6 linked regions of the Homo sapiens genome follow. The protein of the gene in region 1 purifies or fractionates together with the protein of each later gene. This does not show direct contact. Each region holds a gene or a part of one and is shown in the gene's direction. Other genes may lie near its edges. The genes, in order: SGK1, OLA1, PCCA, MYH14, MYH1 and LETM1.

Region 1 (3,500 bases):
GTGGCACCATCTCATCTCACTGCAACCTCTGGCTCCTAGGTTCAAGCAATTCTCCTGCCTCAGCCTCCTGAGTAGCAGGGATTACAGGTGTGCACCACCATGCACAGCTAATTTTTTTGTATTTTTTTTTTTAGTAGAGACAGGGTTTCACCATGTTGGCCAGGCTGGTTTCCAACTCCTGACCTCAGGTGATCCACAAGCCTTGGCCTCCCAAAGTGCTGGGATTACAAGCATGAGCCACCACAACTGGCTGGAAGGTCTTTAAGGACAGAAAACCAGTTACCTTGTTCACTGTATCCCCTACTTGTCAAAACATATTTGTTGAATAAAAGAATGCATAAAATAAAAGAACAAATCCTTCTATTACTTGCCCCTAAGTCATTGCCCTCTTCTCCTTCCTCCTCCGTCTTCCTTTAAACAGGCTTTGGTGGCTCAGAAATCTAATGCATTTTATTTCTCTCTATGTTTAGATATGGATTAGATATAAATTAAGACTGAAATGTAACCTAAATCTGGCTCAAAGACAAGCTGTCACTTCCCCTTCAGAGCTGGTGGGTACTTAGGGAAGCTTGACCTCAGCTTATTTGCTGATCCAATGCCCATAACACACCTTCTCTTCTATGATACTTTTCTTGTCAGGCCAAACAAGACAGACGTAGCAGTGATTCACTAATCTCCTTTTATTTTGCATTAATATGAATTACTAACTTCAGTAATATATAGTAGGCTGGGCACAGTGGCTCACACCTTTAATCCCAGCATTTTGGGAGGCCAAGGCAGGCAGATCACCTGAGGTCAGGAGTTTGAGGCCAGCCTGGCCAACATGGTGAAATCCCGTCTCTACTAAAAATACAAAAATTAGCTGGGAGTGGTGGTGGGCACCTGTAATCCCAGCTTCTCAGGAGGCCTAGGCAGGAGAGTCACTTGAACCTGGGAGGCGGAGGTGGCAGTGAGCCAAGATCACGCCATTGTACTCCAGGCTGGATAACACAGTGAGACAGCATCTCAAAAAACAAACAAACAAACAAAAACTATATAGTATCTGCATTATGTATCCTCCCAACTAGAATCCTAAAAATGTCTTTCAATTATTACTTATCCTCACTTTTCAGCATGGTCTTAGGAGCCACAGAGTGTGAGTAAGACGGATGCCTTTGGCACTTTGACCACTAAGTCTTAGAGAGTTTGGATGAGGGAGTTCAGCAGTCTAGGTTTGGCAGTGCTGGGGAATTAGTCTCAGTACTGCAGAATGTGGATGATGAGCCATTTTCGTTAGATAGATATTTTGCCTCCCCAGCAGCTCTCAAGAAAATCCTGAGATAGGCTCTTAGCTACAGTGCTTGGGAGGGATTTTGAATGGAAAGTGTAGCTGAGTTCCTTGAAATTCTGCACCATTTTTTAAAGGGCTGGTGCTGAAATGCGGGTGCCATATGTAACACTGGAGTAAGAGATATTCTGAGCTCACCCATATTTTATGATCTGTAAGTGCTTAACAAGGTAAAGCAAAACCAAAATGAGGGGGCAGGAGTGAGGAACGTGGGGGGTGGAGCCATCAAAATGCATGTTGGAGATTTCCGAATATGAAAGCATAAAGGCAGGAACAGTAATGGGAATTGGATCAATAGAAAAGTTTAATTAGTAATTTAGGTCAAGCTAAAGATAGTTCGCTAGAGCAAATATTGTAGAAGCATATTTTTAAAGTGTGATTTTTTTTTACATACTAGTTAATTTTTTTTAGAAATAAGTCCAAAAATAAAGGTAAATATCAACATTCCTAACATTGGCAGAAAAGACTCCTGACTTATGAGTGGGATGCTGTTTCCTGCCTGCTAAGGAAAGCTAGGATTCCTAGCTTGTCAGCTTGTTTGAGCGTGAAATCATTGGCTCCTCACCAACCTGGGGATGAAGATTTTTATCCATTCTATGGGGCTCAAGAAAGTTCAGCTCGCAGGGTAAAAAGAGTCTTCGAAGAGCTTTAACTGAAGGGATACGCAGTGTCTCTATAGAGATCCACATCCTCTGTAATGGGAAAGCAGGTGGTTCTGGACCTCACTCTCAGTGAATCCTTCTGGCCCAGAAATGAGGACAGCAGCAGTGACCTACCCTGGTCCTTGGTCTAAGAGCAGGCTTACCCAGCAAGTGGCCAGGTTTCTCTGGCAAACTGCACAGTGATGCTGGCAAATTTATAAAAGACCATGTGGGAAAGTGGAGGAGAAGGAGGTGGAGGAGGTGAAGGAGGTGCAGGAGGAGGAGGACAGGAAAAGCAGACAGTAAGGCAAGTTCGGTGCTGCGTTGGCCTCCTCCTGCAGCTGCCATGGCATGTGGAGAAAGGATTATTATTATAGTTTGTTTACTCTCACATCTATTTCTCTGCAGCATTCTGAAATGACATTGTAAGTATTTACAACAAAGGGAAATGAAAATCAAAGATGTAACTAGAGCAGTAGAGGAATCTTCTATTTGGTAGTTCGAGGTGCCAAAATATTACTCTAATTGCTTTCTAGAGCCTGCTGTGACGTTTTTCGGAGAAGAATTCACTTAGCTACTTCTGTAACATTAGGGTAACCTTGGCCTCTTTTTCCCTCCTAGGTCAGGGCATTCACCCAAAACGCCATTTGCTTCGGGAAATGACTGGTCATGTGGTTCTTCCACTTTCTCTCTCCTGTCTCTCTCTCTTTCTCTCTCTCTGTTGTCTCTGGAGGATAAGCTCACAGCAAGGCAAAAGAGAAAAGCATGAAGTGAAATATTCCTAGGCTTGCCGGGCACGGTAGCAAACGCCTGTAATCCTAGCACTTTGGAAGGCTGAGGCGGGTGGATCACCTGAGGTCAGGAGTTTGAGACCAGCCTGGCCAACACGGTGAAATCTTGTCTCTACTAAAAATACAAAAATTAGCAGGGTGTGGTGGCGTGCACCTGTAATCCCAGCTACTCAGGAGGCTGAGGCAGGAGGATCACTTGAACCCGGGGGGTGGAGGTTGCAGTGAGCTGAGAGGGCACCACTTCACGCCAGGCTGGGTGACAGAGAGAGACTCTGTCTCAAAAAAAAGAGAAGAAACATTCCTAGGATTGTGCCCATAGAAAACAAAGGATTCTCGTTCTAACCCAGTGGCTTAAGGAACATCTTGCTATCTCTGAGTTTGTTAGAGTGACATCAGCCAGTTTGAAAGACCTTGGTAGCTCAAAGATTTTAGTCTCTAGAAATAGCAAGGTGAAAAAAGAAAAGTCCCCCAAATTGTTAAAACATATTTAGACTCAAGTCCCTGTAGGACAAAAATTAAAATATGCCAGAGGGGAAAAATGAAAGTTAATAGTTTGAGAATTAAAAATAAATCGGAATATGTATTTATAATGTTTATTACTCAGAAATGTGATCTTTCCCATAGAATGATCTTTCCGAAAGCAGCTGAATTTTCTTTGAACTCTGAATCTTTCTGGGCCAGTATTTATTTAGGTTGTACTGTAAAAAAAATTACAGGAAAAAAACGATGAGTACATAGCTT
Region 2 (3,500 bases), on another chromosome or scaffold:
TGTCCAGGATAACTTTAATTATTTGTGAGCTGCTGAACAGTGAAAGTGGAGCGGCATTGATTGAGGCAGGTAACAATTGATTCTGCCTATTACATAGTCTGAATTTCTTCATCCTGTAGAATCTGTCTACCCTCCTCCTGTGGTCAGAGATAAGACGCACCAGTATTGTGCTTGCTTAATCTGTGTGACTGGGTTTGTCTGCAGTGAAATTGATGTTGCTTTTCATTTTGTATTCGCTAAGTTTGTTTGGGTTGCGGGTGGTTCTTTCCTCCTTTGCTTTGCTCGGATTACATTTTCAGCAATAAAAGCAATATGACATCATTATGCTCTTCATAGATACACAGTTGGGCTCAAAAAGCTAAACTCAACGTGTAATAATTCATGCCTTTTTAAATTTGAATTCATAGAAGTAATGTTTATTTTCAGTGTTATATGTTCAGTCTTACTTCTTTAAAAATGTGATATGTATTTTAAAAATTGATGTATACTGAATACAACAGAGAGAATGACTAATTTATTCCCAGAGGACAATAGAAACTGAACTGTAATGGTTTGCTTTTAAATTTAAATATATTGTAACATAGTAGTTACTATTGAAAAATATTTTGAAATATATGTGATCCTAAATAGTATGTTACAGAATATAAAAATAATACCAGAACTTTTAGAAATAGTGTCTTATTCAGTCTTTTATTATGCTTTTTAAATATATGCTACACGATAAATTTTAGTGGTGCTTTGATTCCTGTTTTCAGTGACTACTGTAATTTATTGTTACATGTATTTTGATTTAATATGGATAGAAACATGGAGGCAGTTAACATAATGTTAAATGCCTTGTGTGAATGTGAGATTTACTTTTCTTTTATCTCCTCTCCCCTTTGTAAAAAAATGTTTGATTGACTTCTAACCAAGGTCCTTTTATATAGATTTTAAAAATAATGTCAAAGCAAATCCAAGTTGGTAAACAAATTGCCAGGATTTATTTTTACTATATATTTTAAAGATGTATTTTAAAGCCTTAAAACTTTCTAACTTAAGTATGTGGAGGTAGGAAAGATAGCATGTTCTGGGCTTGAAAATGTGAAAGCTGGTTTATCTTAAGACTGATTGTAAGTATCCATGATTTAATGTGCTAAGATATTTAGTCAGGTAAGCATCAGTGAGTAGCTATATTAACCCAATACATCTTTTATTGTAAAAACTGTGCTTTCTAGTGTCAGACTCCTTATCACTTTAACATGCTTTATTAAGCAGCCTTTAGGTCACCGTTATTTCTCAAATTTCTTTCCATGGTTATGTGTGTGTGGAATATATATCCTTGTAATATAACATATGGGTTAATTATAAGACATTTCTCTCCCTATATCAACTTGAATTTCCTTCATGATGGTTAGAGGCAGGGAATATTATGCAAAATGTTCAAAAATTTTATTATCGAAATTTTTTGAGAGTTTCACAATTATTTGCTGAATGTAGATTTCCAATATGATTTGTTGGAAATGCCTTTAAAATGTCCCTTTGTATATTGATTTTTATATGTTCTTTAGATGAGCTGAAATTTTGAGAGCTTTTTATCTTTTTAAAACCTTTGATAATTCAGCTTGAAAGTTACTTAAAAATCTATTTTTTTCCACTGTGAAGAATAGAAAATCGAAATGAAACCTACACCAAAACCAGACCACTGCTTCTAAATCAATAAAACAGTGGATGACTGTTAGGAAAAACAAAGCCACGCTTCTTTAATATCTACTGATCTATGCTAAATCTGCTGCACAGATACTACCCAGTGTTGAAAATGTACTAATTATATACCTGACATCTTAACAGATATTAAACTAAGTTCTAGTTGAGCCCAACTGCAGATCAGAGAAAAGAAACTCTGTGCTTACAATCAGTCATCTTAAATGCAATTAGTTTTCTCTGGTCTTTCTTTTCAAAGAAAGGGACTAAGGCTCCTCAGGCTGCAGGAAAGATTCACACAGATTTTGAAAAGGGATTCATTATGGCTGAAGTAATGAAATACGAAGATTTTAAAGAGGAAGGTTCTGAAAATGCAGTCAAGGTAAAGAATTGTTTTTATTTTTGTATTTCACAATGTTTCCACTGATGCGAAGTTAGTCATGATAAAAATGAATGATAATTATCTTTTAAACTGAGTGTAGTCTAAAATAAAGTAATAAGATGATCAGCGTTTAGTGTTACTATCAACTGACTTAAGAGCTATAGATGTTTACATACTTTTAGATCATTTTAAAAATGTGTGAATTGTCAGTAGTTTTGTGGAGGTTTTTTTCTATAATTGAAAATAAAATAAATTAGGTTTAAGTAATTGTAAATAATTTCGAAGAATTTGTTCACTCATGGCCAATGAAAAATTGTACTTATTACATTTGAATAGCTGAAGTATAATATATATGCTTATAATTACTTCAAGAATAGAGATAGAAAGTTAGTTAAATAAAAGCTGTTCTTTCTAAAACTTCATGGTTTTACTTGTTTGTTGTTTAAAGATACTTGGGGATTTGATTTGCTTTCTCAACACTAGAGGGCAGGTCCAAAATTGTGCTTTATTTTAGCTAATAAGGATAATTTGGTTTGCAGACACTAATAGTGAAGCAGTTTTATACATGAGTAGTAGATGACTTGTTAAATGTAAATTCTGTTGCAAAATTAATTTTGTTTGATTTATTAGATGTTACTTAGAGAAATCTAGCAATCTCTAATATAGACAGATTAGCTGGTTAAACTGACATTGTAGGAAGGTTCTTTAATTTAATTTAATATTTGAAGACTACTATAGTAAATGTTATAGAATTTAAAGAAGATTCTTGTGTTTACTATTTCATAAGTTGAAAGGAATACAAAAAAGTTTATTTCAGGTTTACTTTATTTTCACTGGTATCATTGGAAAGGTCATACCGAACAGCAGGACTTTAATAGAACTGTTGGAACACCAGGAAGAGGAGGGGGAAAATCTTGGTATAATTGGTTCAATGTTGAATGAGAACCATTTTGTTTTTTTGAAAGAGTGGAAGGAATAACAGTTTACAAGTAAACACAGTTGTTAATTTTTTGATGGTGGCATCTGTATAGATATAGGTAGGTGTGCAAAAATACTGAGATTGAACTTTGTCAGGAATACTAATTAGACGAACAAAAATCTCAGATTATTTGTCAACATGCTACATCATGTTGGCATATCTATTTTTCATAAGGAAGATAAAAATGAGGATGTTTTCTATTACTAGAATTCAGAGATCAGATGCTTCTTTTTTTATACTCTTAAAATGGTAAGCCTGTTTACCAATCCTTAGTAGATCTATGTTGTAATAAACTTGATAGATGAATTGTAAATATTTCCTTTAACAATTGAGAGAAACTTTATAATATCCAATAAAATAATATTTCCTGCTTGTAAGACTATTTACCACTAACTGGCAGCTTTTATACTATAAATTAGAAAAGGTTGACTCTGACATTTTCACCTAGGATACCAT
Region 3 (3,500 bases), on another chromosome or scaffold:
GGAAACTGAGCCAGCCAGCCATGTGACTATATGGGGGCCTAGCATTGCAGACCAAGGAGTGCCAGGGCAAAAGCTCTGAGGGGAGATTGCATTTGGCATAATTAAGGGATGAATGTGGCTGCTGTGGTTGGAGTGAACTGAATGAGGGGGTGATCTTAGGAGATGAGGGAGGAGGAGTGGGTAGGCGGGACAGAGTCATCAGGGGCTTGTATTTGGAATTTAGTAATGAGAGTCCAGTTGGAGGCATTTAAGCACATTGAATTTATGTTTGGAAAAGACGTTTGTGACTAGTACGTAGCGAATGTCTTAGTAGGGGTGGGAGTAGGATTGGGGACTGGGGTGGGAAGAGTGGAAACAGAGAGACCCATCAGGAAGCTGTTGTAGAAGACCAAGCTAGAGATGATGGTAACTTGTGCTAGGGCACTGGAGTTGCTGAGAACTGGTCAGACTTGGAATGTATTTTGGAGCTAGAGCCAGTATCTTGCTGTGGGGTTTGAAGGCAGATACAGATGTACCTCATATCTTGGCTTTATTGACCCTGCAGATACTGCTTTTTTTTTGTTGTTTTTACAGATTGAGGGTTTGTGGCAACCCTGCTTTGAGCAACTGTATTGGTGTCATCTTTCCAATAGCACATACTTACTTGGTGTCTCTGTGAAACATTTTGATAATTTTTTCATTATTACTATGTCTGTTATGGTGATCTGTGATCAGTGATCTTCGATATTCTTATTGTAAATATTTTGGGGTGCCGTGAACCACGCCCATATAAGTTGGAGAAACATAATTGATAAATGTGTGAGTTTTGACTTCTCCAAGCAGTTATTCCCCTATGTCTCTCCCTCTCCTCAGGCTTCCCTAATTCTCTGAGATACAACAATATTGAAATTAGGCCAATTAATAATCTTCTAAGCGTTCTAGTGAAAGGAAGAGTCACACATCTCTCACTTTGAATCAAAAACTAGAAATCATTAAGCTTAGTGAGGAAGGCCTGTCAAAAGCCAAGATAGACTGAAAGTTGGGCCTCTTGTGCCAAATTGTAAATGCAAAGGAAAAGTTCTGGAAGGAAATTAGAAGTGCTACTCCAGTGAGCGCACAACTGATTAAAAAAAGTGAAACAGCTTTATTGCTGATATGGCGAAAGCTTTAGTGGTTTGGATAGAAGATCAAACCAGCCACAACATTTCCTTAAGCCATAGCCTAATCCAGCGCAAGGTCCTCGCTTCAGTTCTGCGAAGGCTGAGAGAGGTGAGGATGCTGCAGAAGAAAACTTGGAAGCAGAGGTTGGTTCATGGGGTTTAAGAAAAGAAGTGAGGCCGGGCGCAGTGGTTCACACCTGTAATCCCAGTACTTTGGGAGGCCGAGGCGAGTGGATCACAAGGTCAAGAGATTGAGACCATTCTGGCTAACATGGTGAAGGATCAGATGATTGTTAGCATTTTTGAGCAATAACTGTTTTGAACAATAATTAATTGGACCTGAACCTACAGTATCTGTAAGGTATGTACAAACAGGGAAAGGAAGGAATTAAGAGTGACTTTTGAAGGGTAGACACACAAGGTCGCTATTGTGTGATTTTGTGTTTATATGCAGTCTCCAGAATAGACTGATCCATGAAGACAGAAAGTAGATTAGTGGTTGCCCAGGGCCTGGAGGAGAGGGGATGGGAGTGACTGCGAATAGTTAAGGGTTGTCTTTTTGGGGTGATAAAAAATGTCCTGGAATCAGTAGCCATCATGGTTCCATGCCTTGTGGATATACTAAAAACCACGGAGTTGTATACTTTTTTAAAAGGGTGAATTTTATGGTATGTGAATTACATCTCAATTAAAAAATAAAAGAATGGTCCGGGTGCAGTGGCTCACACCTGTAATCCCAGCACTTTGGGAGGCCGAGGCAGGTGGATCACCTGAGGTCGGGAGTTCGAGACCAGCCTGACCAACATGAAGAAACCCCATCTCTACTAAAAATACAAAATTAGCCAGGCATGGTGGCACATGCCTGTAATCCCAGCTACTCGGGAGGCTGAGACGGGAGAATTGCTTGAACCTGGGAGGCAGAGGTTGCAGTGAGCCAAGATGGCACCACTGCACTCCAGCCTGGCGACAGAGTGAGACTCCGTCTCAAAAAACAAACAAACACAAATCTTCGAATACTTATGTTAACAAAGTAAAGCAAAGAGGCCAAGGTGGGAGGATCACTTGAGGCCAGCAGTTCAAGACCAGCCTGGGGAAAATAGTGAGAACCCCCCAGCCGCCCAGTCTCTACAAAAAATAAAAAAATTAGTGGGGCATGGTGACATGCATCCATAGTCCCAGCTATTCAGGAGGCTGAGGTGGGAGGATTGCTTGAATGCAGGAGTTCAAGGCTGCAGTGAGCTATGATCCTATCACTACACTTCAGTCTGGGCAACATAGTGAGATCCTGTCTCAAAAAAAAAAAGTACAATGAAGCTAGGTGTGGTGGCAGGGATGTGTAGTCTCAGCTACTTAGGAGGCTGAGGTGGGAAGATCATTTAAGCCTAGGAGTTAGAGGCTGCCATGGGCTATAATTGTGCCTGTGAGTAGTCACTGCAGTCCAGCCTGGGCAAACATAGTGAGACCCCCATCTCTTAAAAAAACAAAAAAAGTAAAATAAGGTGAAATTAATATATTTTACTTAATATATTCAAATATTCAAAGTATTATTTGAATATGTAAATGTAAAAATTCACTAATGAGGTCTTTTACATTTTCTGGGTACTAAGTTTTCAAAATCCAGTGTGTAGTTTACTCTTAGAGCACATCTGAATGTGGCTCGTGGCTGCCATATTGGATGGAACAGCTCTAGGGCACAGATTGTGCTACTAATCAAGTCCCACCTTGAGGTGCTGGGACTGGCCTTTTGAATGCAGTGTTAGTCAGCCCTTGGCCAGGCAGGGTCGGGGGAGCTCTCAGGCTTGATGGAGAGCTGTATAGTTGAGGAACATGGTCGAGATGAGGGTGCAGGTGTGAGCCGTTAGTTGTCAACACAGCAGTTAGAGAGGATCTGAGTGGCCACTGACAACATCTGCTACAGCGGGATGGGGAAGAATGGCCTGGCGGAAGAGTCAAGGGTGGGATGATGGAGCTCTAGAGTTGACATGTATAGTTTCCTGGTGCTTGAGCTTAGTACAGAGGCAGAGCCCAGAGAATCTTGAGTCTTGAACATCTCTCTCAAATATTAGGTGTTCAACTTGGCTTTTGGCAGACACTGAAGATTGGAATGGTCTCTAAGATCCTGAAGACTAAATAGTCTATTTGAAAGAAAAGCTGTGCTTCCAGGAAAAAGCCAGACCTAATTAAGTGTCTTCAGAGAAGGGCATGGGCTCTGTTACAATGCATGATGAAATACCGTGTCATAATACATGGATAAGACCTTCACCTGGAATTTTAGAGATGAAGCAAGATGAAGTAAACTAATGTTTACTTTGACCTTGGTGAGATCATTTTATAGCTCCATTAACCCAGTTTTGAGGATAG
Region 4 (3,209 bases), on another chromosome or scaffold:
ATGTGCTGGTCACTGAAAAAATTAGACGTACCATGGAAGTATGTCTAATTACCTCCATGGTATGTCTAATACCATGTCTGGTGGGATTCCCCAAGGTGAAAGACTCATGAGCTGGACATGGCAATGAAGGCCTATGAACTAGAAGGGTTGAAGGGACACAGATGAAGAAGAAGCTGGAATACCCTGAGATGTAGTGGTTTGGGAAGGGTATCTAGAGGAGGAGGCACTTGAGCTGGAGCTGACAAGAATGGGATTTCCAGGGCTTAGAGTCCCAAGTCAGTTGGCAGCTTTGTGGGAAAGTCTGGGAGACATCAGGGCATTTGGAGGAGGAGTGTGGTTGGTTCTGAGAGTCTGGGACCCAGGAGAGGGATCAGGGAGACAGGGAGGTAAATGAGGCTTGAAGCACACAGAGCCTTGAATACTGGGCCACGGAACTCTGTTCTGTGGGCAGTGGGGAGCCCTGGGGGCAATGGGGAGCCATGGGAAGGCTGTGGGCTGGGGAGGGACACGGCCAGCTCTAGGTATAGAAAGATCTCTCTGGGGCTAAGGTGGGAATGGATCAGAGGAGGGAGACTGGAAGCTGGGAGGTTTGGAAGGAGTCTGGAATGATGGTCCAAGCAGAACAAGATGAGGCCTGAGCTGGGGCTGGGGCTGTGAAGATGAACAAGAGAGGATGAAGAAGAGAAAGCAGGGGGCAGAAGGAATGAAGCGGAGGCTATGGGTGGTGGCAGGGGAAGAAGACACTGTTTGGAGCTAAGGCCTGGTGACTGAGGGAATATTGGCTTTTTGGAGGAAGATGCTAAATTCGTTGTGGAACTTGATGAGAGTGAAAGGCCTCAGGGACAGGCAGAAGGAAACGGCCCCAGAGGTGCATGAGACAAGTGGTTCTCAGTCCACAGGGTCACCCAGGGGCCCCAGGGCTTATGGGAACTGTAGCTTGAGGTCTATGGGGACCCCTGCTCCATTATACAAATGAGGAAACTGAGGTTCCGAGGGAGTAGATGAGTTGCTTAAAGTCACCCTGCACCAGGTGCAGTGGCTCATGCCTGTAATCCCCACACTTTGGGAGGCTGAGGCAGGAGGATCACTTGAACCCAGGAGTTCAAGACCAGCCTGGGCAACATGGCGAGACCCCATCTCTACAAAAATAAAAATTAAAAATTAGCCCAGCATGATGGCACACACCTGTAGTCCTAGCTACTCGGGACACTGAGGTGGGAGGATCGCTTGAGCCCAGGACATTGAGGCTGCAGTGAGCCATGATCACACCATTGCACTCCTGTCTGGGCAACAGAGCAAGGCCCTTTCTCAGAAGAATAATAAAGTCACCCTGGGAGCAAAGAATGACCAGATGATTCTTAGCTGAAGAAGTCTCAGCCGGGCGCAGTGGCTCACGCCTGTAATCCCAGCACTTTGGGAGGCCGAGGCGGGCGGATCATCTGAGGTTGGGAGTTCGAGACCAGCCTGACCAACATGGAGAAACCCTGTCTCTACTAAAAATACAAAATTAGCCAGGTGTGGTGGCACATGCCTGTAATCCCAGCTGCTCGGGAGGCTGAGGCAGGAACAATTGCTTGAACCCAGGATGCAGAGGTTGCGGTGAGCTGGAGATCGTGCCTTTGCACTCCAGCCTGGGCAACAAGAGTGAAACTCTGTCTCAAAAAAAAAGAAGTCTCTCTCCTTCATCCTTTTCCACTGCTTAGTGCCTTCCCACTCGCCCCCAGCCCTGTGCCTTCCTCTCAGCACATCTGGGGCTGTTGTATCCAGGGTGGCTGTCAAGCAATCCCGATTGCTAGAGGTCCCATCACATGGACTTCACCCCAGATGTGATGGTCCATGCAGGAGAGGACAGGTGTAAGGGCAGAAAGAGTGTTCCCTCCCGCTCTGAAGATTCAAGTCTGCTGAAATAAACTGACAATAAATAGATTAACAAAATAAAAGGCTACAAATATATTAATGTGCATGAACACAGGAGCCATGCAAAATATAAGACTTTTTATACAGGGTCAGATGGTTGAGGCTTAAGTATCCTCTTTATAGGGGAGAGAGACAAAAAGGATGTATTCAATTGTGAGAGATAGTAAATGATTTTCAGGGGAAAATGAATGGGCCCAAAGAGTAAACTGTAGTTTGTAAATGATCCTCTTTGGAAACTGAATAGGACCAAACATATACTTATTATAACTCACAACATCATAGGAAACAGGTATGTGAGGTGTCCTAGTAGAAGCCAAGGACATGGATGCCGAGGAGAAGGCAGCCTGCATGTCAGTGTTTGGCCTCAGTAAACTGTGGGAACCACTTAGGGGTTAGGAAAGAGGGAAGAAGCCAATCCAAGAACAAGGTGACAGCCACTGCATGAGTCTATGGGGACAAAATCCTAGGTTGAGCCCCTCTACTGAGACTCCTCCTCATCCCTCTCTTCAGAGAGCGCATCCTCTCTGGAAAGCTGGTGCGCAGAGCTGAGAAGCGGCTTAAAGAGGTGGTGCTCCAGGTGGAGGAGGAGCGGAGGGTGGCTGACCAGCTCCGGGACCAGGTAAGCAGCTGGCATCATTAGGGAGCAGTGGAGAGTGTGACCACTGGCTGAGAAATTGCACAGGCTGTCTCCAGAGGCAATGAGCTCCCATCACAAGAAGCAATGTGCAGGTGCTGGACTGGAACTGAATGCAGATACCATCTTGGCACTTGGCACATCAGCAGAGGGTTGGAATCAGTGAGTTTGCAATTCATAAATGCTGGCATCTAGAAAGGGCCCTGTAGGGAGCTGAGGAAGCCAGGGCAAGGGAAGAAGTTAAACCCTACCCAGAAGCTAGACCAGGACTAGCTTCTATGTACCAGGCACTGTGCTAAAGACATAACATTTACTGTGTTTAATTCTTATCAGAATGGTAGAAGGAAGGTGCTATTATTTACCCTCTTATTTATGTGAGGAAACTGAGGTACAGAAAGGTGAAGTAACTTGCTCAAAATTATTTAGCTGGTAAGAGGTGGGGTCAGTATTCAAACCTCAGCACTCTAGCCCCAGAGTGTGTGTTCTTGATTACTTACTGAGCAGTTACTGTGTCATAAGCAACTGCTTTTTAAAAAATACATATTTGCATTTCCTCACTAGTCCCATTTCACAGATGAAGAAACTGAAACTTTAAGAGGATATATTTTGCATCAGAGTCACAGAGATAGAGCCTGGATCAGATCCCAGGTCTGTCTGG
Region 5 (3,500 bases), on another chromosome or scaffold:
TCCCAGGCCTTCATGACATGTCTTTAATAACACCAACAAACTTTATCTGTGAAGGTGTACAATGCAGTGGGTGCTCTGGCCAAAGCTGTCTACGATAAGATGTTCTTGTGGATGGTCACCCGCATCAACCAGCAGCTGGACACCAAGCAGCCCAGGCAGTACTTCATTGGGGTCTTGGACATTGCTGGCTTTGAGATCTTTGATGTGAGTTAGCAGAAAAATTGTACCAAAAAAGTTTCCAACAAGCAAGCTTGTTGCTGCAGTCATATAGCATGCCTGTAGTCACTTATGGAAAGGGTCTATGAAAAATAGCTGCACTTTAAACTTAACTGACACATGAAAGAGCACCAAAAGACCGTGAAAGGAAGTGAACTTTGGAATGAGACAGACCTGGATTCAAACTCCTGCTCTGCCAATTACTAGCTGTGTAATAATGAGAATTGTACCTGATTGATCATTGGGCAAATTCAACTAGGACCTGTAGGTAAAGCACTTAACATTCCAGATCACAGATTCACTTCTGAGATCTGTCTGCTAGTTTCAAGATTTCTGAATTTTCAGCCCTTAACACAGTCCCCAAGCATGCAGGCAGCACTCAGTAAACAGTAAGATACTGAGGGCAACAATAGAATCAAAGATAGCAGTGGAGAAGACAAAGTCTTTAAAAGAAAGACTTTGAGATTCTGTTTGCCGAGAAATGAAATGTGTTTAATTATTAGGATAACCTCTGCAATACCCAGGTATTGAGTATAGAAATGGCATCGTAAATAAACTCAAATTTGTCTGCCTAAGGAAGAATACCTGCTACACAGCTTAGGAAATAGGGCTACTGCAGTCCTCCACTTGACAGCAGTATCTCGGATGTGTCTCATTTAGAGGTCCCAATTCTAAACTTTTATCTGTGTACGGACTGATTGAAACTGGATGAAATTTTAGAAACGGAAGCACTTCCAGACATTTCCAAGCCAACGTGGAAAGAAAGGAATAATCTGTCATCAAGCAGGAACAGAAAAAGCAATCCACACTTTTTAAAATAAGAGAACTAATGACAGGGTACTTGCAATCATTTTGAGCTGCTTCTTTTTTTTTTTTTGAAGTAACAGCTTTATCGAGATATAATTAACATATCATACAATTCACCTATTTAAAGTATAAAATTCAATGGTTTTTAGTATATTCACAGGTACATGCTATCATCATAACAATTTCAGAACATTTTCATCATCCCAACAGGAAATTCTATTTTGTCCTCCCCCTAGGCCACAGAAACCCCTAATCTACTTTCTGTCTCTGGTTTTGGCTGTTCTGGACATGTCTTATAATGGAATCGGATAATATGTGGTCTTTGTGACTGGCTTCTGGCACTTCGCATATGCTTGCCAGATTCATCCCCCTCATAGAATTCCTTTGACTTTTGTGTATGGTGATAATGCCCTTAAACAAGGGCATCCTCAATTGTGTTTCTATGTAGGTGTCCCGAATAATAAAGCAGGGCAGGTCTACTCAAGTTCTAGGAGTAGTTACAAACACTGGCTCTGGCATCAAAATGTTGGGGTTCCTGCCATGACCCTTACTACCATGGTCTTACACAAGTTACTTAGCCTCCCTAATAGTGTTTCCTCACCCATGAAATGAGCAAATGATACCACCTACAAAGGTAGCTGTGAGGATTAAATGCAGTAACTTATACAAGGCACTCAGCATAGTGTCTACTGTAGAGTAAATGTTCACCAAATATTAGCTGTTGAATTTTTATTATTAAGGACAACATACAGACCATAATGGCTCAGATCTAGCAAATTTAGCTAGTTTACAACATAATCATAATCATTAAGAAACCTCTGACTAACAAAAACAAATACTATAAAAACCAAACAACTTTTAAAAAAAAAACTTTTAAGTTCAGGGGTCCATGTGAAGGTTTGCGACATAGGTAAGCTGTGTCGCCCACGTATGAAGCCTAGTACCCATAAGTTATTTTTTCTGATCCCCTCCCTCCTCCCACTCTCCACCCTCCAATAGGCCCCAGTGTGTGCTGTTTCCCTCTATGTGTCCATGTGTTCTCATCATTTAGCTCCCACTTATATGTGAGAACATACAGTATTTGGTTTTCTGTTCCTGCGTTAGTTTGCTAAGAATAATGGCCTCCAGCTCCAAACAACTTTTTTTTATTGCATAGGAAAGCATCATTCAGAGCTTGTTGACAGGTGTTGAAGAGACAATTTTAACAAGTATGCTAACAGCAGCAAAAACTTCATTGTGTAGGTATAGGTAGGACAAAACGATACCATCCTAAGAGGGCAATTTGGCTAACTAAAAAAACACCCCTTTCAAAGAGAAGATTTCATTATAAATTGAATGCTAATTTGTATTTTCAACTCATTTAGTTCAACAGCCTGGAGCAGCTGTGCATCAACTTCACCAATGAGAAACTGCAACAGTTTTTCAACCACCACATGTTCGTGCTGGAGCAGGAGGAGTACAAGAAGGAAGGCATTGAGTGGACGTTCATTGACTTTGGGATGGACCTGGCTGCCTGCATCGAGCTCATCGAGAAGGTTGGCTTGCTTTTTGCAGACCACAGATCATACTGCTGTACAGTATTTAAAAGAAAATCATAAAATCTTGATATAGGCAATGGCTAAATATTTCTACTTGTGAAAAACATGAGGAGAATTCCTTATTTTGCCAACTCTGAAGTAGATATTCTGGTAAAAGGAGATTAAATATTTTCTATAGAGTCCAGAACACAACACTTACCCACAGTTTGCAATACAAAGTCTTACATTTAAAGTCATCTTTCCTTACAAAAAGTGCACTGACTAGAATATTTTTTACTTACTGTTTTTTGTCATCCTAAAGTCATTATTACTGCATTCAAAGTATGAATTTCTACTACTGTACGTTAAAGCAGAGGCTTTTAAAATCCAGTGTGCGAAAGACCCACCAAGAATACTTGGTACAATTGCAGGTTTCCCTTGTCTCACCCCTAGAAATATTTTCTGGTAAGTGTAGGATGAAACATCGGAATCCTCATTTTGAGCAAGTGATTCTGATGCAGCTAATTCGCAAGTCACACTTGGAGAAATATTGCTCTCAGGTCTTTGGGGTAAAGACACAAACTCCACAGGAGCACAGCCTTCATCTGTCTTACTCTGTCATATCCCAGAGCCTGATACAGCACGTGGCTCCTGATCAGCACCCAATAAATATTTGTGAAGTTAATGACTTCTGACCAAAGGAACGAGTTTTCGTTAACTCTGTAGAATTAAAGGATGAATTTACTCAGATGGGATAATTATTAATGTTAAATGTTATTTCTATAAGCAGACAGAATTCAAGTGGCATTTATTTCTTTTCATTCTTCCAGCCTATGGGCATCTTCTCCATCCTGGAAGAGGAGTGCATGTTCCCCAAGGCGACAGACACCTCCTTCAAGAACAAGCTGTATGAACAACATCTTGGAAAATCCAATAACTTCCAGAAGCCCAAGCCTGCCA
Region 6 (3,500 bases), on another chromosome or scaffold:
CGACTGACGGCGCTGGCCCCGCCTCTGCCTCACTGTGCTGTAGGGCGCAGCCACCTGAGCCTCTCCCTTTCCCACGTGTGTAGGTGATTGAGCTGGTGGACAAAGAAGATGTTCACATCTCCACCAGCCAGGTGGCTGAGATTGTAGCAACACTGGAAAAAGAGGAGAAGGTGGAGGAGAAGGAGAAGGCCAAAGAGAAGGCAGAGAAGGAGGTCGCAGAGGTGAAGAGCTAGAACCACTGGCCTGGGCACCTGTCCTCCTGCTGTGCCGTCACCCTGGCAAGGGCCGTGAGGGCGATTGCTTTGTGGTGATTCTCAGTGGCTCATCTAATATTTTGGCTGGAATAAATCAGAGACTTCCATAATCAAGTAAATTTTAATTTTCATCATTCCACGGAGATTCAGTCTGTCTGGAATCCCGGAACCCCTCCACAGAATCGTGTCTGGATCCACACTGTGGTGTGGCTGCCACGGCCTCCTGGCTCCAGAGGCAGCTGGGCTGGGCCAAGGCAGGAAGGCGCCCCCATGTGTGTGGCCTCAGTCTCAGCATCTGACTGTGCTGCCCTGTCCCCAGGGAAGAGAATGAGGACCACGTGGACTCCGCCCACACAGAGCTGGCTGCTGTGCCCACCCTCAGGGGCGTCAGGAGACACAGCCTGGCCTCCTCAGGGCTGAAGATGCCTCCATTCGCCTGTGGACCTTGATTTCTAGATTTCAGTGTCAATAGACCTGTCTTCCTGCACACTTTCAGTTGGATGTGGGTCATTGTGGAGACAGAGGTGTCTGCCATCTCTGTGGCCTCTGGAGAGTGACGTCTCCCTGCTGGGAGTGCTGGTTCTCACGTGCGGTTTCCCTTGTGTATCGGAGCTCTTTCTCGGCTTTCTATTTCCCCCAGTTCTTTAAGCAGTCAATTGGCACAGAGTTTCCCACGGGGGCTGCAGTGGATTCACTGTGTCAGGGATGAGCCTGGCTTGGGGGTTGGTGGGGCTCTGAAGCGCATTTGGGGTTCTTTGTAGCTTCTAATGTGAGGTTTGAGTCCAGTGCGCCCACAGCAGCATGCCCTTCTCACCCCTTGCAGTGTTGCAGGCTCAGGCCCCTGGGCTCCTTCAGCAAGCAGGCTAGTCAATGAGGCATGAGGATCCGGCACAGGGCATCCCCTGGGGCTTCAAGGGCAATACCCCCGTGCTTAGGGTTTGCCCTGTGCCCTCTGGGTGGGGTGGCCTCCCCGCACTCGGCAGCATGGCCAGGCTGGCCAGGGCGTGGGCAGGTGGTGTCCTGTGGCACCTCCATCCTCCTGCCCAGCCGGCTGTGTCACACTCATCTTTTTAAGGTCAGGTTGGTTCCTGGCAAAAATGTACCTCCAGGGGCCTCCAAGCATAGGATTTGGAAGACAGGAACGGCACAGGCGTCCAGGAAAGCAGCTGCACTCAGACAATGCCTTCTCCATTACTTGAAGCTTCTTTCTGTTCAGCCATTAAAGAAACTTGACAAAATAGGAACAGGAGATATTTCTCAATTGTAAACCTTTGTGCAGGGACAGTTGGCTTCCAGAGGCTTTCAGCTTTCAGTTATTTGAGAAGTTTGTTTTAGATCCTTAACTAATATTTATGAATTCTCTCACCCTGTGTAAGTAGCCTGGTGTTCGTTTGTCCAAGTGTACTTACCCTTGAGAACAAGTCTTGCAGTTGCCAGGTGTGTGCAGACGCCTCTCCTGTGAGCGGCATCGCGGGCCCAGTCAGCTGCCCCGGCTCTCATCCTCGTCCTCACTGCCTTGGCTGAGCACTGTTGACGTGAACAGCCACTGCAACAGGCAGCCCATCCCACTGTCCCCTCTGCCCTGGACTCCGCATGGCCTCCAAAAGCCAGCTTGCCCTCCGGGTGCTGCAGGGGCTTTGCAGGTGGGGAAGGCTCTGGTGGGTGCCTTTGGTGGCTTCCGTGACATCAGCCGTGCTCTGATGCAGGCTTGCTCCCTCGTCATTCTCCCTCGTCATTCTCCCTCATCGTTCTGTGTGCATTTTTCTCTATGTCCTGACCTTTCTTCTTGCACCTAAAAGTGGTGTCTGGGTGCAAATGTAAGCAGTGGTGGATCCAGAAATATGAGCTTTGTGTAATAAGCTTCTTAAAACAGTCCTTTCTTACACCTGCCCAGGGCCAGACCCTCGGTCTTGGCCTTTTTCAGGAGCTAGGATATCTGCGCCTGGTGAAAATGAAACGAATTCCTGATTTAGGAATTCAGTGTTTCCTCCTCACTCCAGCTAAGCACTCACTTTTTTTTTTTTTTTTTTTTTTTTTTGATACAGAGTCTCGCTCTGTCACCCAGGCTGGAGTGCAGTGGTGCGATCTCGGCTCACTGCAAGCTCCACCTCCCGGGTTCAAGCGATTCTTCTGCCTCAGCCTCCTGAGTAATTGGGATTACAGGCATGCGCCACCATGCCCAGCTAATTTTTTTTTTTTTTTTTGAGACAGAGTCTTGCTCTGTCTCCCAGGCTGGAGTGCAATGGCGTGATCTCGGCTCACTGCCAGCTCCGCTTCCTGGGTTCACGCCATTCTCCTGCCTCAGCCTCCCGAGTAGCCAGGACTACAAGCACCCGCCACCACACCTGGCTAATTTTTTTGTATTTTTATTAGAGACAGTGTTTTACCGTGTTAGCCAGGATGGTCTCGATCTCCTGACTTCGTGATCTACTCACCTCGGCCTCCCAAAGTGCTGGGATTACGGGCAAGTTTTTATTAGAGATGGGGTTTCATCATGTTGGTCAGGCTGGTCTTCAACTCCTGACCTCAGGTGATCCACCCGCCTCAGCCTCCCAAAGTGCTGGGATTACAGGCATGAGCCACCGCGCCCGGCCTGAACTCTCAGTTCTAACGCAGGGATTCAGGAATTGGGCTTTCAGACTCCTTCTGCAGTGTCACAGTCCAGACTTTTTTTAAATGAAGGACACCCCGCAGTGGCTCACAGTGGGTCCCAGGGCTAGCAGGAGCGTGCTGGGGAGCCGGCTCTGTCTTTGTTCGCAGTGGGTCCCGGTGCTGGCAGGAGTGTGCTGGTGAGCCGGCTCTGTCTTTGTAAATCCTTCAGGGGTCCTACGGCTGACTCCACCGGACAGCCCGTCCTGGGCCGTGTTAAGCACCTTTTGTAGAAATCGTATTTTTATTAAAACATCAAATCTGTGTTCCTGTAACAGTGCAGAGTAATAATATTTCTGAACCGTTGGGCACACAGGAGCGAGTGGAAGCCGGCAGAGCTGTCCACGTGGCTGCAGGGGCTGGGCCTTGGGGCGCGTGTGGCTGTGAGGCCAGTTCCAGAAGGAGCCTCACCATCCCTGGGGGTTTGAGTGCTGGGCCGCCCTCCATGGGTTCAGCCCTTGGCTTCACGCTTCCTGCTCTGCAGGATGGGCCTGCAGGGTCAGGAGACCCACGTCCCCAGGTCCTGTGACAGCGTGAGCTGCTCATGGAACAGTGTGGGACGTTCTCCAGGCCAGTGGCCCTGCCACCTGGTCATGC

What was found.
Region 2: the proteins of SGK1 (region 1) and OLA1 purify together in Homo sapiens (co-immunoprecipitation; one large-scale study listed by IntAct). This does not show direct contact.
Region 3: the proteins of SGK1 (region 1) and PCCA purify together in Homo sapiens (affinity purification with mass spectrometry, with the first as the bait; one large-scale study listed by BioGRID). This does not show direct contact.
Region 4: the proteins of SGK1 (region 1) and MYH14 purify together in Homo sapiens (affinity purification with mass spectrometry, with the first as the bait; one large-scale study listed by BioGRID). This does not show direct contact.
Region 5: the proteins of SGK1 (region 1) and MYH1 purify together in Homo sapiens (co-immunoprecipitation; one large-scale study listed by IntAct). This does not show direct contact.
Region 6: the proteins of SGK1 (region 1) and LETM1 purify together in Homo sapiens (co-immunoprecipitation; one large-scale study listed by IntAct). This does not show direct contact.

What each region holds. Positions count from the first base shown.
Region 1 is NC_000006.12:134,308,113-134,311,612, reverse strand, and holds part of SGK1 (serine/threonine-protein kinase Sgk1), read left to right. Parts: intron 1-3,500. UniProt on the Homo sapiens protein: Serine/threonine-protein kinase which is involved in the regulation of a wide variety of ion channels, membrane transporters, cellular enzymes, transcription factors, neuronal excitability, cell growth, proliferation, survival, migration and apoptosis.
Region 2 is NC_000002.12:174,077,533-174,081,032, reverse strand, and holds part of OLA1 (obg-like ATPase 1), read left to right. Parts: intron 1-1,942; coding exon 1,943-2,065; intron 2,066-3,500. UniProt on the Homo sapiens protein: Hydrolyzes ATP, and can also hydrolyze GTP with lower efficiency. Has lower affinity for GTP.
Region 3 is NC_000013.11:100,095,593-100,099,092, forward strand, and holds part of PCCA (propionyl-CoA carboxylase alpha chain, mitochondrial isoform a precursor), read left to right. Parts: intron 1-3,500. UniProt on the Homo sapiens protein: This is one of the 2 subunits of the biotin-dependent propionyl-CoA carboxylase (PCC), a mitochondrial enzyme involved in the catabolism of odd chain fatty acids, branched-chain amino acids isoleucine, threonine, methionine, and valine and other metabolites.
Region 4 is NC_000019.10:50,304,622-50,307,830, forward strand, and holds part of MYH14 (myosin-14), read left to right. Parts: intron 1-2,427; coding exon 2,428-2,536; intron 2,537-3,209. UniProt on the Homo sapiens protein: Cellular myosin that appears to play a role in cytokinesis, cell shape, and specialized functions such as secretion and capping.
Region 5 is NC_000017.11:10,508,543-10,512,042, reverse strand, and holds part of MYH1 (myosin-1), read left to right. Parts: intron 1-54; coding exon 55-204; intron 205-2,387; coding exon 2,388-2,558; intron 2,559-3,370; coding exon 3,371-3,500. UniProt on the Homo sapiens protein: Required for normal hearing. It plays a role in cochlear amplification of auditory stimuli, likely through the positive regulation of prestin (SLC26A5) activity and outer hair cell (OHC) electromotility.
Region 6 is NC_000004.12:1,811,157-1,814,656, reverse strand, and holds the end of LETM1 (mitochondrial proton/calcium exchanger protein precursor), read left to right. Parts: intron 1-83; coding exon 84-233; 3' UTR 234-3,178; downstream 3,179-3,500. UniProt on the Homo sapiens protein: Plays an important role in maintenance of mitochondrial morphology and in mediating either calcium or potassium/proton antiport. Mediates proton-dependent calcium efflux from mitochondrion.